4 linked regions of the Homo sapiens genome follow. The protein of the gene in region 3 purifies or fractionates together with the protein of the main gene of each other region. This does not show direct contact. Each region holds a gene or a part of one and is shown on either strand. Other genes may lie near its edges. The genes, in order: RBPJ, ZBTB17, RUNX3 and RCBTB2.

Region 1 (3,772 bases), on a different chromosome or scaffold from region 3:
TCACCCAGAAAAATGCTTTGTCTATACAATGTTTGCACACAATTTCAGAGGATTCAATGAGCACTGAAAATCTATTTTTGGATATCCTGAGGGGCTCTTTGTTCTTCAATTAAGAACCCTGGAACTAGATGTTAACTGTTTTCTCTGAGAACATTTTCATAATTTTGAGTTCTTCCTTGAGGAAGGATTGCTTGCATGTCTGAGGATTGTGTGTTAAGGATGCTCATACCTGAGATAAATATCTGTGTATAGCTTCATGTATTTGTATATAATTAACAGCAAATGAAAATTTCATATTTTTGCAAGCTGCTAACCTCACAGTTTGTACATTTTAGATTTCACCAGTAATTTAAAAACATACCTGAAATTGAATTATTCTTTCTTGAGAAAGGCACAAATACATTCTTTCTGTATCCTTAAGGTAAAATGCACATTTATGGAGTTGTGACACAGGATCATCTGCATCCAATAATGCGGTCTGCTTATCAACTTTCCTAATTATCTATATTTAACAATTAAGAAATAAAAGGTCATCCACACATGGAAAGGATTTTCCTTGTGTAAAACATCAAAAGTACATAGAAGCTATATACTGCATAATAATACATCACAGTTATTTGTCCTATGCCTACATATATAAAAACATTCACAAACAAAAAGACTAGGAATAAAAAACACTTTTAGATTGCAAGCATGTCAGAATGTAGAAACTGTTACCCTCTTCCCTGAACATCTAAAAAAAAAAAATCAGGCAGGCAGGCACTTGTTTTCTAGATCAGTGTTTTTCAAACATTAATGTGCACATAAATGAGCTGGGGTTCTTGTGAAAAACACAGGTTCTGATCTAGCAGGACTCTTGTGGGGCCTGATATTCTGCATTTCTAACAAAATCCCAGTTGATGTTAATGCTGCTGGCCTACAGACCATATTTTGAACAGCAAGTTCTAATGATATTTTCCAATAATATGCATAAAATGACAAATACTCCAACATCAAAGGGAAAAATCTCTAGAAGGCTACTGTCAGTGCAAACGTCTTATATCTATTATCCAAAACTTACGTATTTAAAAACATAACAAAATCAAACTCATTTTACAGATTACAAAATGGGCTTAGAAAGGTCAGACAAATTGCTCAAAATTACCAGTTTAGTAGCTGAAGGACCAGAATATGTCCTGATCCCAGGGCTGGCTGCCTGTCCAACTGATCTCTAAAGCTTATAACGCAACTAGTCTACAAAACACATGAATATCTGAAAGATAATACTATCAAACCCTATATGACACTTGACACCTAGAAGGTAATGGCTAAGTAGATGATCATGATGAAGAGCAAAATTTGACACAGAACTTTTACTCTGTTTCCTTTTCTATTGATCACTTCCAACAACATACAAACATAACTATCTCTCATCTCAAAATCAAAAGTAAAGAAAACACTGACTACATGCTCCTGTCCCTCCCTCTCACTACCTGTTTTTCTGCAAACGCCTCTTCCTCACTGTCCAATCTCCTGCAATCTCTCCAACCTTTTATCTCAAAGACGCCACTACAACTGCTTTTCAAAGCCACCAAGGATTTCCAGACAGATGCATCTCACGGCACTTTTCTGTCCTCATTTTACTTCATTTTCTCAGAAGCTCTCAACACATTTTGCTTTCAGGACCACAACTGCTCCAACTGACCTTTAAAATGCCCAGAGCTGAGTTCTCAGCCCTCTTTTCCTCTCTTTATAATCTATACTGTTTAAAAATTTAAAGGTTGACAACTCCCAAATTTATTATCTCCAGACTTCTCTCCTGCATTCAACTTGTATGTACACTTAACTACCTATTCAACATTTCCACTTACGATGTCTAACAGGCACCTCAAGCTTAGCATATCGAAAACAGATTTTTGGATTTCCTCCTAAACTTGATCCTTCCCCAACTCATCTAGGTCAATAAATGGCACTAGCATTCACTCAATCCAAAAACCTTAAGAGTCACCCTTGATGCCTTGCTTTCTCTCACACCCAACCATCCAATCTGCCAGCAAATTCTGTCAGGTCCACTTTCCAACAAATCAGTCACCCCTCACCACCTTAATACTATGATCCTGGGTCTAAGATAGCATCAACTCTTGCCTCAATTATGACAACAATCCAAGCACCTGTCTCTCTGCTTCCACGGCCGCATTGCTATGCTCTCTTCTCCACACAGCAGCCACACATATACTTCTAAACAAAAATAGGCCATCGTGCCCCGTTTAAAATCCTCCAGTGGCCTTCTAACATGCAGAGATAATATGAAGTCCTTACCCTAGATACAGAGAGGGATCCTACAAGGTCTTGCTTAGTGCTAACCTTACAGATTCAGTTCCTGCCACTTGACCTCTCCTCCCTCCGCTCCAGCTCCACTGGTTTCTTTACTAGTCATCATACATCCCCTGCCTTCAGTTCTGTACTTGTTCTGTTTGCCTGAAATGCTCCTCACTCAATTACCGGTTCTTTGACTTCATTCTGGGCTCTCTTCAAATACTGCGACTTCAAAAAGACTTCCCTGACCTCTCTAAGCGCTCCTCCAATTCTCTATCCCTTTATTATCTTGTTTTGTTTTTTCATCACTACATAAATCCTTTACATGGGTATTTGGCTTATCACTCTATCAAAATGTAAACTCAATGACGAGAGGCACTCGACTTTGCATGTCAGAATTCCTGTCATGAAACCCCTGGAAAGATTTATGTATCAGCGTCTTAATAATGGTACTGCAACTTTTTCTAATAAGTTAATTTTTCATTGCAACATTTTTATATAAAGCCATACAGTTTTGAGTGTAAAAACCTCAATTAATGACTTTCAAGCAAGGCAGGCTACTGGTACTTTACAAACAACTGTAAATGAAAACATTGTTTTAAATTTGGGTCTGTCTTCTAAGTGGTTTGTATTATAAACTATTGGTGATCAGAATCATCCTCCTAAGTTGTGCTTCTGCAGTACAAGCATTTAACACCAAAGCAAATGAACATCATCCTTGGAACAGAGGAAATGAATGAGAAGAGAAAAAAAATGAATAAATGCTGATTCAGATTTTTTGCTTGCTTCTGTCTCCTGCTCTGTTTTTCATGCCCTTCATTCCCTAACGTTACCCTTTTTATTATAATTTGTCTCAGCTGCAAAGCTTTACAGATTACTATTACTATACTTCATGTCTTCTAGCTTATTGCATTGACATGGGAAATAAAATCACCTTGTACAATCATGACAGAGGGTAAAAAAAAAAAACAGTAACAAAGAAATGAATCACTGGCTTAGAAAACTGTAGATCAAACCAGCCTCTGCTGAAATGACCCCAGAAAATATAAGCCAGTGGAATATTGCACCAAAAAGATAAATAGGAGGCATGTTTAGGAACATTAATACTAAATGTTCTTCTACTCACCCAACCTCTTCAGTCTGACCTTGAATCAAACTTACTCATAAATCCCCTTCATCTTGAATATAAGTAAATTATATTGTTTGAGAAAAGGAGAGGGAAAATTGGGAGGGTGGTGGCACTATAGAGGACTTTTGTTTTCATTTTACTAACAAAAGTAGTTTTTACAATTTCAAGATCTCCTTTTCTGTGGTTGTTGAGATAGGATCTCATTCTGTTGCCCAGGCTAAAGTCCAGTGGTACGATCACCGCTCATTGCAGCCTTGACCTCCCGAGCTCAAGTGATCCTCCCACTTAAGCTTGAGACTACAGGTGTGCACCACCATGCCTGGCTAATTTTTTTTTTGGGGGGGCGGG
Region 2 (4,495 bases), 8.9 Mb from region 3:
CACTGGGACACAAAGATGCACAGACTCAGCCTCAGGCCCTGCTCTCAAGAACTCCAGCTCAATAAGAGACAGGACACAATGTTAAGAAGGAAAAACGACAAGGTTTGTATCCAAGCATTACTGCAGCATTGGCACTGCTCTGGGATATCCTGGACACTTTGTTTCTCATTGCATACCCTACCCTAGGTGAGCTCATCCCCTCCCATGACTTCAGTGACCTTTGATGGTGATAACTACTAGCTGAACAGGTGCACTTGAATGTTTTACAGGCATCCAACTCCAACATGTTCAAAACTAAACATATCTGCCCTCCCCCAGATCTGCTCCCCGTACTGCTCCCTATCACATGGAGCAGCATCCAACACCCATCAGTCAAAAACTGGGGTGATCCTGACTCCTCCCTGCCCCTAACTCTCATCAAACTAATCACCAAATTGTGTCAATTCTATCGCTAAAACCATCTCTCCTCACTCTCTGCCTTTAACTCACACCTTTATTTCTCACTTGGATTATTCTAGCAGGCTCTTAATTGGCCTACAGGCCCACTCCCTTTGATACATTCTTCACTTAGCCAGAGTGATCTTCCTAATCCACAAATCTGATTCGTGGCCAGGCATGGTTGCACATGCCTATAATCCCAGTACTTTGGGAGGCTGAGGCGGGAGGATCATTTGAGGCCAAGAGTTCGAGACCAGTCTGGGCAACATAGTGAGACCCCATCTCTACTAAAAATTTAAAAAATTAGCCAGGTGTTATGGTGCACGCCTGTAGTCCCAGCTAGTTGGGAGGCTGAGGCAGAAGGATCACTTGAGTTCAGATCAAGGCTGCAGTGAACTATGATTATGCTGCCACTGCACTCCAGCCTGGGTGACAGAGCAAGACGTAGTCTCAAAAAAAAAAAACAAAAACAAAAACAAAAAAAACCTGATTCTTTTATTTCAGGCTGGAAATAAAAGAATCCTCCCACCTCAGCCTTCCAAGAAGCTGGGACCACCAGAGGTGTACTCCACCATGCCCGGCTATTTTTTTTTTCCTTTTTTTTTTTTTTTCTTTTAATAAAGATGGGGTCTTGCCATGTTGCCCAGGCTTGTCTCAAACTCCTGGGCTCAAATGATCATCCCACGTTGGCCTCCCAAAGTGCTAGAATTACAGAGTAAGCCACCGCACCTGGCCACAGATCTGATTCTTAAATGGCTTCCCATTAACCTAAAGTTTAAAGTCCTTAACTAGGTTTACAACGTCCCCTAAGACCAGACCACAGCTTGCTGCTGCTTTTTTTTTTTTTCTTTTTTGAGACGGAATCTCGCTCTGTCGCCCAGGCTGGAGTGCAGTGGCGCCGTTTCGGCTCACTGCAACCTCCGCCTCCTGCGTTCGAGCGATTCTCATACCTCAGCCTCCTGAGCAGCTGGGACTACAGGCGCGCGCAAGCACGACCGGCTAATTTTTGTATTTTTAGTAGAGACGGGGGTTTCACCATATTGGCCAGGCTGGTCTCGAACTCCTGACCTCAAGTGATCTGCCCGCCTGGGCCTCCCAAAGTGCTGAGATTACAAGCGTGAGACAACGAGCCCGGCCCAGTCTGCTTCTTTATTTAGCCTGATCTCTCTCTCCTCTCTCTACGAAGATGAGTTTTCTCACAAACTACACCCTTAACTGGGAATACCCGTTTTCCTGCCTCACTCCGCTGAGCTTCCCTTAGATCTTAGCTTTCTGGGGGACAGAAGCCTCCCGGGATTCCCCCTAGGCTGAGTGATGTGTCTCTACTCCGTGCTTCAGAGGAAGGAGGGCTTTCTGCCCTCGCAGCAGTATCAGAATTGCTGATTTACCTGTATGTCTCCCACATGGGTCTCTGAGCTCTGGGTGACAATGGTGATACAATTAATAACAGCAACAAACACACAGCATTTACTTTGTACCCATAAGTGTTCTAGGAGCCTCATTTCCCCTTTATTACAATCTTAGGAGGCTGATTTTATTATCATCTCTGCTTAAAGGATGAATAAACCCAGGCAGAGAGAAAAAGCCAAAAGTGCCTAAGGTCACAGCAGGGAATGGGGATTCAAACCCCGCTGCTGGGCTCCACGGTTCACACTCCTAACTCCAGGATCGAGGATCCTGGAGGATCGAGTCCGCCCGCATCACTCGCTCTAGCTTCACCATCTATCAGGTGCTGAACCACCGTCCGCAGTACGAATGAATGAATGAAATGCTTTTATACAGGGACAGCGTCGGCCTCCTCTGTCAGCTCCTCCTAGGCCCGGGCAGCCCCGCTCCCTCCCGCCCCGGCCGGCCGACAGGAGCTGCCCCGGCACTGCGCTCCCTCGCGGCCGCAGAACGCCCACCCTCGACAGCGCGCGGGGTCAAGGGGCGGTGACAGCCGTGCGGCGGGGGCGGAGATGCTACCAGCTGGGGTGTCATCCAGCCCGGGAGGTGACACGCGCCCCCTCGCCCGGGCGGTCGCCTGGCCGCCCACTCCCCGCCAGCACGCCCGGCGACGCCCCCCGCCCCGCCACCCCACAATCTCCCGCCCAGCGGTGTCCCCTCAGCCCCGGTTGGCGTCCCATTCCACTTCCCTCCCCTCCCCCACACAACCGTCACCGGCGTCCCACCGCGCCCCATCCTCCGCCGCCTCCGCCCCGGCTCCCGGGACTTCCCCGGCCCCGGGCGATTGTTGACACTCACCTGCCATGTCCCGGACCCCACCGCAGAGGGAGGTGCATCACGGCCGCGAGAAGGCCGGGGACGGCACTCCAGAGCAGACAAAGGGCGCCGCCATGTTAGAGTCGGGCGGAACCGACCTCGCAGGCTTCCCGGCTGCAACTTCCGGCGCATGCGCAGCGTCCTCGCTAGGAGAGCGCCCATAGACAGACGCATGCGCCTAGCTATCCAAAAGTTCCACCTTACAGTACTTCGGCGCTCAGAGTTGTCCTCATTGTACCCCTGCCTTGGTTTCTCTTCCAAATATAACAGTAACATCATGTGTTCAGCTCTTACTGTGTGCCAGGCACTGTGTTAAGCGCTTTACATGCATTATCTCTTTAAATCCTCACACCAATTATAAGATAGTATTATTCTCCTAATTTTAAAAAAGGGAAAACAGACTCAAAAAGTGTAAATCAATGTCCATGGTCACATATCTTGTAAGTGGTGGACCGGAGATATGAATCTACTTGTGGCTTCAAAGCTGCAGATCCCAGTTGTGTTTTTCTACCTTCTAAACCGAACATTATCCCCTTCCCTGATTGTCTTGGACGTGAATAAAGGTGTCTGAAAACAAAAGTGTCTGCAGACTTGCATGGCCCCTCCGTGGCCCCTCTTCTACCTTTTTGGTAGCTCTAGGCCACTGACTTCTCCACTTTCTCACAGTCTGAGGGCTTTCTCCTTTGTTTACTTCTAGGCCTGCATATTTTCCATAATCTATAATTTTAACAACACTCTTGCCACTACTGTAAGCTCTTTTGCCCCCTTGCCTTTTTGTCACATGGATTTGGTAAGAATACCAACGCTGTGTGAATCCAAATGCACCTTTTCTCTTTGTTAGCTCCCAAACAGCCAAGCACAGCTGAAGAAAGTATGCAGTGGGGAGACTGTTCCCTAGAGATTCATGTCCACTAGCCTTCAGTGGGATGCAACATATGCCAATCTGGCAACTCACTCCTGTCTTCACAATGGCTAGAGAAACAAAAAAGCCCAGCAGTTGACTTCACCCCTTCTTGTCTTTAGGTTTTTTTTTTTTTTTTGGAGACAGAGTCTCACTCTGTCTTCCAGGCTGGAGTGCAGTGGCGCTGTCTCGGTTCACTGCAAGCTCCGCCTCCCGGGTTCACGCCATTCTCCTGTCTCAGCCTCCAGAGTAGCTGGGACTACAGGCGCCCGCCACAACACCTGGCTAATTTTTTGTATTTTTAGTAGAGACGGGGTTTCACCATGTTAGCCAGGATGGTCTCGATCTTCTGACCTCGTGATCCACCTGCCTCAGCCTCCCAAAGTGCTGGGATTACAGGCGTGAGCCGCCGTGCCCGGCCGTCTTTCTTTTCTTTCTTTTTTTTTTTTTTAGATGGGGTCTCGCTATGTTGCCCGGCTGGACTGAAACCCCTAGGCTTAAGCATCCCATTTCAACCTCCCCAGTAGCTGAGACTACAGGCATGTGCACCCACAACTGGCTAACTTCACCCGTTCTTTTTAACTATATTTTTAATTTTTATTTCAGTAGTTTTTGGGGAACACATGGTGTTTGGTTACATGGATAAGTTCTTTAGTGATGATTTCTGTGATTTTGGGGGACCCATGACCTGAACAGTGTACATTCTACCCAAGGTGTAGTCTTTTTTTTTTTTTTTTTTTTTTTTTGAGATGGAGTCTTGCTCTGTTGCCCAGGCTGGAGTGCAGTGGCGCCATCTGGGCTCACTGCAAGTTCCGCCTCCCAGGTTCACGCCATTCTCCTGACTCAGCCTCCCGAGTAGCTGGGACTACAGGCGCCCGCCACCATGCCCGGCTA
Region 3 (3,772 bases):
TGCTCGTGCCCGAGGGCGTGGCGCTGTAGGGGAAGGCAGCTGACATGGCCCCGGGATAATGCATCCTGGGGTCTGGGAAGCGGCTCTCCGTGAGGGTTGGCAGCGTGGGGAAGGAGCGGTCAAACTGGCGGGGGTCGGAGAATGGGTTCAGTTCCGAGGTGCCTGGAGGACAGCAGGGAAGAGGTCAGTTCCAGCTCGAGACAACCCCAGGAGGGCTTCCTGAAGAATGACCTTGGGCTCTGGTTCCCAAGGCCCATCTGGGGGACCCCTAGTTCTAGACCTGGCTCTCCTCTTCCTGCCCTAGGCTGCCCGGGGCCTCCCCCGCCAGGACTCCGAACACAGACCTGCCGGGAAGCTGGTTGGAGCGTGCCCCGGGCCAAGAGGGGCCATGGGAGCCCCCCCACAGCAGCAACAGAACAGAGGAGGGGGTCTATTCTTCTTTTTAAATCCTCCTTCCCAGCCTCGCAGAGGAGAGGCCTAGGATGCGGTGGTGGGGCTGAGGGCAGAGTCAGCTCAGGCCTCCCAGCAGCCCTGCCCAGGCAGGTTCCTCTCCCCACCGGCCCATGTTAACAGCTGGGAAGGCCGTGGATGTGTAAAGGGCTCCAATGACCGTGTGAGACTGGGAGTTGGAACCCGCTTTTGAAGACAAGAAAATGGAGGCAGAGAGAGAGCAAGACTGAGTCTCTGTGGCAGAGAAAGGACTGGTTCTCATCACAAGGCCTCTGCTGGGGACACACGTGCCTCTCCTGCCCAGGTGCAGCACGCGGAGGTTCTGTGCGCTCACACCTGGGTTGTGGGCACTGAGTTCACAGGAGCTCTGGCCTCCACCTCACCCTGGGCCTGTGTCTCTGGAGCCGACTCGTGGCCACACAGTGACTGGATGCCACCCTAACCTGCCTTGGCAGCAAAGTGAGACAGCAGTCAGACAAACTTGGGGACCCAGACCCCAACCTGGTCACAGTGTCCAGCCCAGACTCTGCCCCTGCTCCCCCAGGAATGTGGCTTCTCAATGGGCTCCAAGGCAAGGGTGTTCCATCCTCTGTCCCCAACTTTTGTCATCACAGACCCCCAAAACCTCAGCATTCAAAGGGGCTCAGGGATTGAGTCTAACACCCTTGATGGGGAAACTGAGGCCCAGACAGGGTGAGGCACTTCCCTCAGGGTCACACAGCACATTGGACCTGGCACACAATCCTAGGGCCTCTGGTCCTGAGCCCCAACACGTACTTGAGAGGGAGCTGTCCCGTCTTTGAGGCAGCACAGGATCAAGGCTTACTGTGTGGCTTCTGGAGCCGGACAGTTATCCTGGTTTGGACACTTACTAGCTTTGTGTCCTTGGGCAAGTCACTTAACCTCTCTGCGCATCAGTTTCCCCATATAAAACATGAGACGATAACAGTTCATCAGGATTCAGTTAATTCACATCGAGTACTTAGAATGGCACTGGGCACAGAGCAGGGGTCCATGAGGCTTTGCAAGGCCACTGTGGCTGTGGTGTCTCTTACTCTGGGTACCCAGGAGAACTGGCTCATTCAGGGCCCTGCCAAGTTGAGGCCCTGGTGCAGGGCCTCCCTTCTACTCTGGCAGCCGGGGGAGGTGGATGAGCCCCCAGCAGTGGTCCAGAGGTGCAGTCTGTCCAGCCCAGCAACCCCTCTGTGTCACCCACCAAAGGATAAGGGCCGGTGCTAGCCGGAGTGGGCTCTGCCTGCCACGCCGAGGCTTGGCTGAGGACGGAGAGCTATGAGCCTGAGGTGTGTGTGACTTCGGCTGGGACTTGGAACTTCTCGGGGCTTTGGGGTCTTCCCAAGTCAGCTGGGGTATGTTTCCCTCAGCAGCGTACTCTGGCCCTGGGCGTGGATCCGAACGGAGTGATGCTCCTGGCTTAAGGTAAGAAGATGTGGGGACAGCAGTCTGGGTGGCGGGGGCCTTCTGGGACATCTGGGATGTTCCCTAGTAGGTCACTTGGCTGTCCCGGCCCCTTGAGGCCGAGAGCCTCCGAGGCACCTGGCTGCCAGTTTTCATCTGGGGAGCCCCTCGGGGGGAGAGGTCCTGTTGCAGGTGCTGGGCACGTCAGCACAGCTGAGATGGGTGGGGTGGAAGTGGGTGCTGGCCGCCTGATGGGAACCCCATTCTCAAGACGAAGGAAACAAATGGGGACCGCAGGATACAACGGCAGGACTGTGCCCCTCAGAGCTCACGCGGGCTGCAGGGCGCTGGGCTGGGCCTCCCTGGACCTGCCACCATCCCCTCCAGCCTCTTTCCTCAGGGCCACCACCCCTCCTCCGGGGTGGTGGGGGAAGTACCTGCCCTCAGCACTCCCTCAGACCCCCCAGCAGCTTCCTTGGAGCTCCTGTACCCCCACCCTGCGGCCTCGCAGCCCCAGGAAACCCGAGCTGCCCGGGGCACTGTCGAGTGGCCAATCCCAACAGTGGAAAGAAATGTTTATTTTCTTCTCCAGATTGTCCGGGCTGCTGCATGGTGGCTGAATGAGCCCTTTCAGCTGTGAGAAGCCCCCATTGTGGGCGGCTGCGGCTGGGGGCTGGGGCTGGGGTATGGGAGGTGCTGGGGTCTCTGCACTGCTTGCCAGTGACCAATATTGGAGGGTCAAAGCACTTAACAGGCACCGAGGGAAGTGGTGGTGGGGTGTCCCAAGGGGGATCCCCAGGAGGGAGTCCGAGGGCAGAGGGAGGAGGGCCTGTGAGAGTGACTTCCCAAGCCTAGGTCTGCCAGCAACCCCTCTTTGTCAGGGACCTCCTTCTCCCCACTTCACAGATGAGAAAACTGAGGCTGAGTTTAAGTGACTTGTCTAAGATCATACAGCCAATGCCTGGCAGAGCCTGAATTCCTAGCCTGGTCCAGCTGACTGCAGAGTTCATGCTCGCCCTGTCCTGGTCATCCGAGGCCCTTTCTCTCACCCAAAGGGGATGGGCCTGAGGATGGAGATGCCTGGCTGCCTGTGGCCCAGTGCTGTGGGGGGCTAGCGAGGGACTGGGCCAGGCCTCAGGAGGGAGCAGGCAGAGAAGCAGAAGTCAGCCACTGCCCCACACAGGCTGGGCTCCTTTCCTCCCAGCCCAGGATGGAAGCAGCAGCTGTGCCTGCCGTGGGGCCAGGCATTGATTCCCAAGCTGTGCCCACCCAGCAGTGGATGGGCAGATGTGGGCTCTCCTTCCATGGGGGCTGGTGGACAGGAAGCCACTGTTCACCCCACCTCCTGGATTCTGGCTCCCCCGCTGAGCCCCGATCCCCTGGCCTGGCTCTGTCCATGGCAGAGAAAGGCTGGCTCTCAGGCTACTGCACCTCGACAGATGCTGGCCCATGGGTAGCAGAAGCAGAGGCAGCTACGCGGCAGGGGTGGGCGTGAGCACAGCGTGCAGGGCTCCTTCCGCTACCTCTTGAGAGCAGACCTCCAACTCCTGGGCTCGAGAGCTGAGAGTCTCAAATGCACTAGCTCCTGGGCTCAGAGAGGCTGGGCCTGGGGCTTCTCCCAACCTTGGCGTCTCAGCAGGACCAAGGCCAAAAGTCCTGAGCCCAGGCCAGAAGGGGAGGGGTCCTCTCTTCACACTGAAGGCCTGCATCCAGCCCCTGGCTGCAGCACTATGCCTGGAACAATGTCAGTAGAGAGACCCAGTCGGCCCCCACCTCAGCGTGGCACCGGAAAAGGGGGTGGGGCAGGCAGACCGGTTGGCAGCCCTGTTCCAGGCCCCTTTATCTGTCCCCTCAGAAGTACAGAAAGTTCTTGGGAGCAGGTACTGTGGAGACTGTGGACCTGGTC
Region 4 (3,772 bases), on a different chromosome or scaffold from region 3:
TGAGGATATTAGTAATTTTTTTCCTCAGCTATAAAAAGATCTCTCAGAATACGAGAAATCATAATTTATTCAGAATTATTATAACTTAAAATTATGAAAATTAATAGCAAAGTATTACTTTCTAACATTTGGAAACAAGTAAAAAAGATATGCTTGCTTTTTAGAAGATTACTTAGAAGTTTCTCACTTAAAAATTTATAAACCGATCTGATTGACAATATGGAAAGATATTCTGTCATTTTAATTAATACTTACTACATATTATCTATGGCATCTTAGCAGATCTGTTAAAATCCTAATTTTCTCTAAGACCCAGCATGACTGCCACTGAGATTTACATCAATGTGGATCCTGATTACCCAAATGGGCTGGGACCTCTTCTCTGTATTTCCACAGCACTTTTTGTTTTGTTTTTAACTACATTGAAGGCATTTTTCAAATTCTGCCTCATATGACAGTTATTCTTGTATGATGTACCTTCTCTATTAATTGGTAAGTTCTTCAAAAGGGCAGACGATTCCTTCATTGCTATAACCCACAGCCCATGGCTCAGAGTAAAACGCAACGTATTCATACAAAGCATCCTTAGAACCCAGCTTTTTGTATACTGGAACTGGCCTGTAACCAAAGTTCCCTCTCCTTCTGCCTCACCCTATCAGGAAACACTTTTTCCATATTTGCCCCAAGTTTACTGGAATAAAAAATAAAAGGAGAGGAGAAGAAAGAGGGAGAGAAGAGAAAAAAGAAGGGACCAAGTAGAGATGTGACTGCCCCTCACTGCACTACCCTAGGCCCCCTTTCGTTCCTAGCAGAAGGGAAATCTTCCTAATGTGCTAAAATCATGAAAAACCGATCCTGGGCTTTTGAGTAGGAAATAACCTCTTTTCAGTGTCTTTTATCAATTTCAAGTAAAATTAAACTCTTTAAAATTAGAATGGTAGGAAAACAGGCCATTCTGTTTATCTGACATCAGGTTAAGACATAATTGTATGTATGTCATGGAAATTACCACATTCAAAGAAATGACATGCAGGATTCAAATTGAATGAAATGTAAGATTAACATAATTTCATATTTGTCAATCAGAAAGTCCTTCAAGATTTAAAAATAAATCAAGATTAATTACTATTGTATAATACTATTAAAAAGTGTTTTGAATTTTTTAGCATTGTGGGAGATGGTTGGCTTTTTTTTTTACATTATTTCAATGTGATGCATACATAATAAAGAAAACTATCATCCCCAATTTGCATGTATAGTTTGTGCACTACACGTGGAGATTACCTTACCCTGTTATCCATGTGATTTCACCAGGCTATTAACAATATGTTGATATATATACTTAAAATAACAATTCACAATATACATACAGAAAGCCATATCCATGATGTGATAAAATGTATTCTAAATAACAACAGCAATAACAACAGTAAAAATAAAGTTATTCTGTGCCAGGCACTAAGTGCCTCACCTTATTTAATCTTTATAATATCCAAATGAAACAGGTTAATCATTGCCTCCATTTTATTCACACATTTCAGTAACGTGACCAATAGTCACCAACCAATCAGTGTCAGAGCCAGTATTTGAACCAGGACTATTCCAAAGCCCTTGTTTTGGGACCCTCCACTGTATTTCAGGGCTAGATACTTTAAGTTTTTCTTGTGTACATTCTCAACAGTTCTATTTTATACTGACTGGCTGGGAGCATTCCCTCCAAAAACTTTTGTACCTGATTGTTTTAAATTTCTGGAACCCAGTATTCAGTCATCTTTAATCCTGTTCCTTTTAGATCCTTGTAAAGTTGTCTTCTAGAGCAAAGTTAATGTGACTGGAAATATAAATACACAAATAAATTCTATTAGAGAAAAACAGAAGGAAAAGAATATACTGTCTTGCACATTTAACAATCCATTCTTTATCTGAGAAAAATACAGCTTAAAAATTGTATCTGTGCTATCTACTATTAAAAAGTCAGCAGCAGAGATGCTCTATTATAAAAATACTAAAGTTATAAAATGTAACTTTAGAATATCATACTTTATAAGCTTCAGGAGAGGGTTTCAACAATTTGGACACTGAAACACATGAAAAAATGCACACTAAGGAGAATTTAATCTATAGTATTTCCATATGGAAAATAAAAGAGAATCCATGTGGAAATGTAAAAAAAAGCAAAACTTTCAAACTTTTAGAAGTATAGAAATATATTTATGACCTCAGAGCAGTTAAAGATTTCATACATAAGACAGGAAAGCATAAAACACAAAGAAAAGAGCAGTAAACTTGAACAAAAGGAAAAATATGCCACAGAATGGGGGAAGATATTTGTAACATGCATAATGGACAGCTTGGAAAGGATCCATACACAAAATATATAAAGAATGCCTGCAAATCAGTAAGAATAAAACAAACGACACAATTCAAAAGTGAGCAAAGGATTCATGATATATATATATATATATATATATATATATATATATATATATATATTCAGTTATATATGTATATATAACTGAAATTTCACAAAATAATTCTTACTCCTCCTACATGAGATGCTTGATATCTTTTCCATTTTTCTACTTTATGCTATTTTATTCTACCCTACTCTATCCTATTTTATCTTGTTCAATTTCATTTTAAAAGAAAATGCTGATCTCAGCCCACTAATTTCCAGATCACTAACAAGTCCTGCAATTTTAGCAACACTGCCCTAGATAAACTCTAGAGCATACACACAAATATTCCCAATAGCAAAAAGCAAGAAAGAACAAATTGATCAACAAAACCAATAAACTGTGGCATATGCATACTATATAGCTATTAAAATAAATTATCTAGAATCAAAACAGGTATATCTACAAAACAATGTTCACCAAAATCACTAAGTCACAAAATGATACATATGGTATCATTTGATAACATTTGATATTTGATAACATTTTAAAACATGCAGAAGACAGTACTATTTTAATGTGTTATGGATACCAACATATGCATGGCTAGACTTTGATGGGAATTTTTTCGTGGGGAAGTTTTGGTGGAGGGAATACCAAAGATAAAAGGTCCCATGTAACTCTGTCAATGAATTGGTATGCTACAGCTTTTCCATCTGACAAGATGGTTTTCAAGATTTTAAGCTTAAATTAATCATCTCAGGATGGAGAGATTAAGGTTACCCAATGTTAAAGAAAATAAACTCTTAAAATGAGAATGCTATCATTCTAATTTTGCCTTTACCAAGGACATGGAAATTCAATAAACGTTTGGTAATGAAAACTCATAAACTATAATTTCTTTAGCCATCTGTAAAATAAAATTGAATCAATACCCTAGGAAGGCCAGGCATGGTGGCTCACACCTGTAATCCCAGCACTTTGAGGATCGCTTGAGGCCCCCAAAAGTTTGAGACTAGCCTGGGCAACATAGGAAGACACCGTCTCTACAGAAAACTTAAAAATTAGCTACACGTGGTAGTACACGCCTGTAGTCCCAGCTACTTGGGAGGCTAAGATAGGTGGATCGCTTGAACCCAGGATGTGGAGGCTGCGGTGAACCATGATCACACCACTGCACTCAGCCCGGGTGACAAAGATCTTATCTCAAAAAATAAAAAATAAATAATTTTTTTAATGAGCTATGATCGCACCACTGCACATTAGCCTAAGCAACAGAGCAAGACTCTGTCTCTAAGAAAATAAAAATAGCCTGGGCGCGGTGGCTCATGCCTGTAATCTCAACATTTTGGGAGGCAGAGATGGGAGGATTAATT

The links.
Region 1: the proteins of RUNX3 (region 3) and RBPJ purify together in Homo sapiens (affinity purification with western blotting; one study listed by BioGRID). This does not show direct contact.
Region 2: the proteins of RUNX3 (region 3) and ZBTB17 purify together in Homo sapiens (affinity purification with western blotting, with the first as the bait; one study listed by BioGRID). This does not show direct contact.
Region 4: the proteins of RUNX3 (region 3) and RCBTB2 purify together in Homo sapiens (affinity purification with mass spectrometry; one large-scale study listed by BioGRID and IntAct). This does not show direct contact.

Annotation. Positions count from the first base shown.
Region 1 is NC_000004.12:26,425,450-26,429,221, reverse strand, and holds part of RBPJ (recombining binding protein suppressor of hairless), read right to left. Parts: intron 503-3,772; coding exon 362-502; intron 1-361. UniProt on the Homo sapiens protein: Transcriptional regulator that plays a central role in Notch signaling, a signaling pathway involved in cell-cell communication that regulates a broad spectrum of cell-fate determinations.
Region 2 is NC_000001.11:15,973,301-15,977,795, forward strand, and holds the start of ZBTB17 (zinc finger and BTB domain-containing protein 17), read right to left. Parts: upstream 2,802-4,495; 5' UTR 2,683-2,801; intron 1-2,682. UniProt on the Homo sapiens protein: Transcription factor that can function as an activator or repressor depending on its binding partners, and by targeting negative regulators of cell cycle progression.
Region 3 is NC_000001.11:24,902,505-24,906,276, forward strand, and holds part of RUNX3 (runt-related transcription factor 3), read right to left. Parts: intron 163-3,772; coding exon 1-162. UniProt on the Homo sapiens protein: Forms the heterodimeric complex core-binding factor (CBF) with CBFB.
Region 4 is NC_000013.11:48,522,927-48,526,698, forward strand, and holds part of RCBTB2 (RCC1 and BTB domain-containing protein 2), read right to left. Parts: intron 1,832-3,772; 5' UTR 1,733-1,831; intron 1-1,732.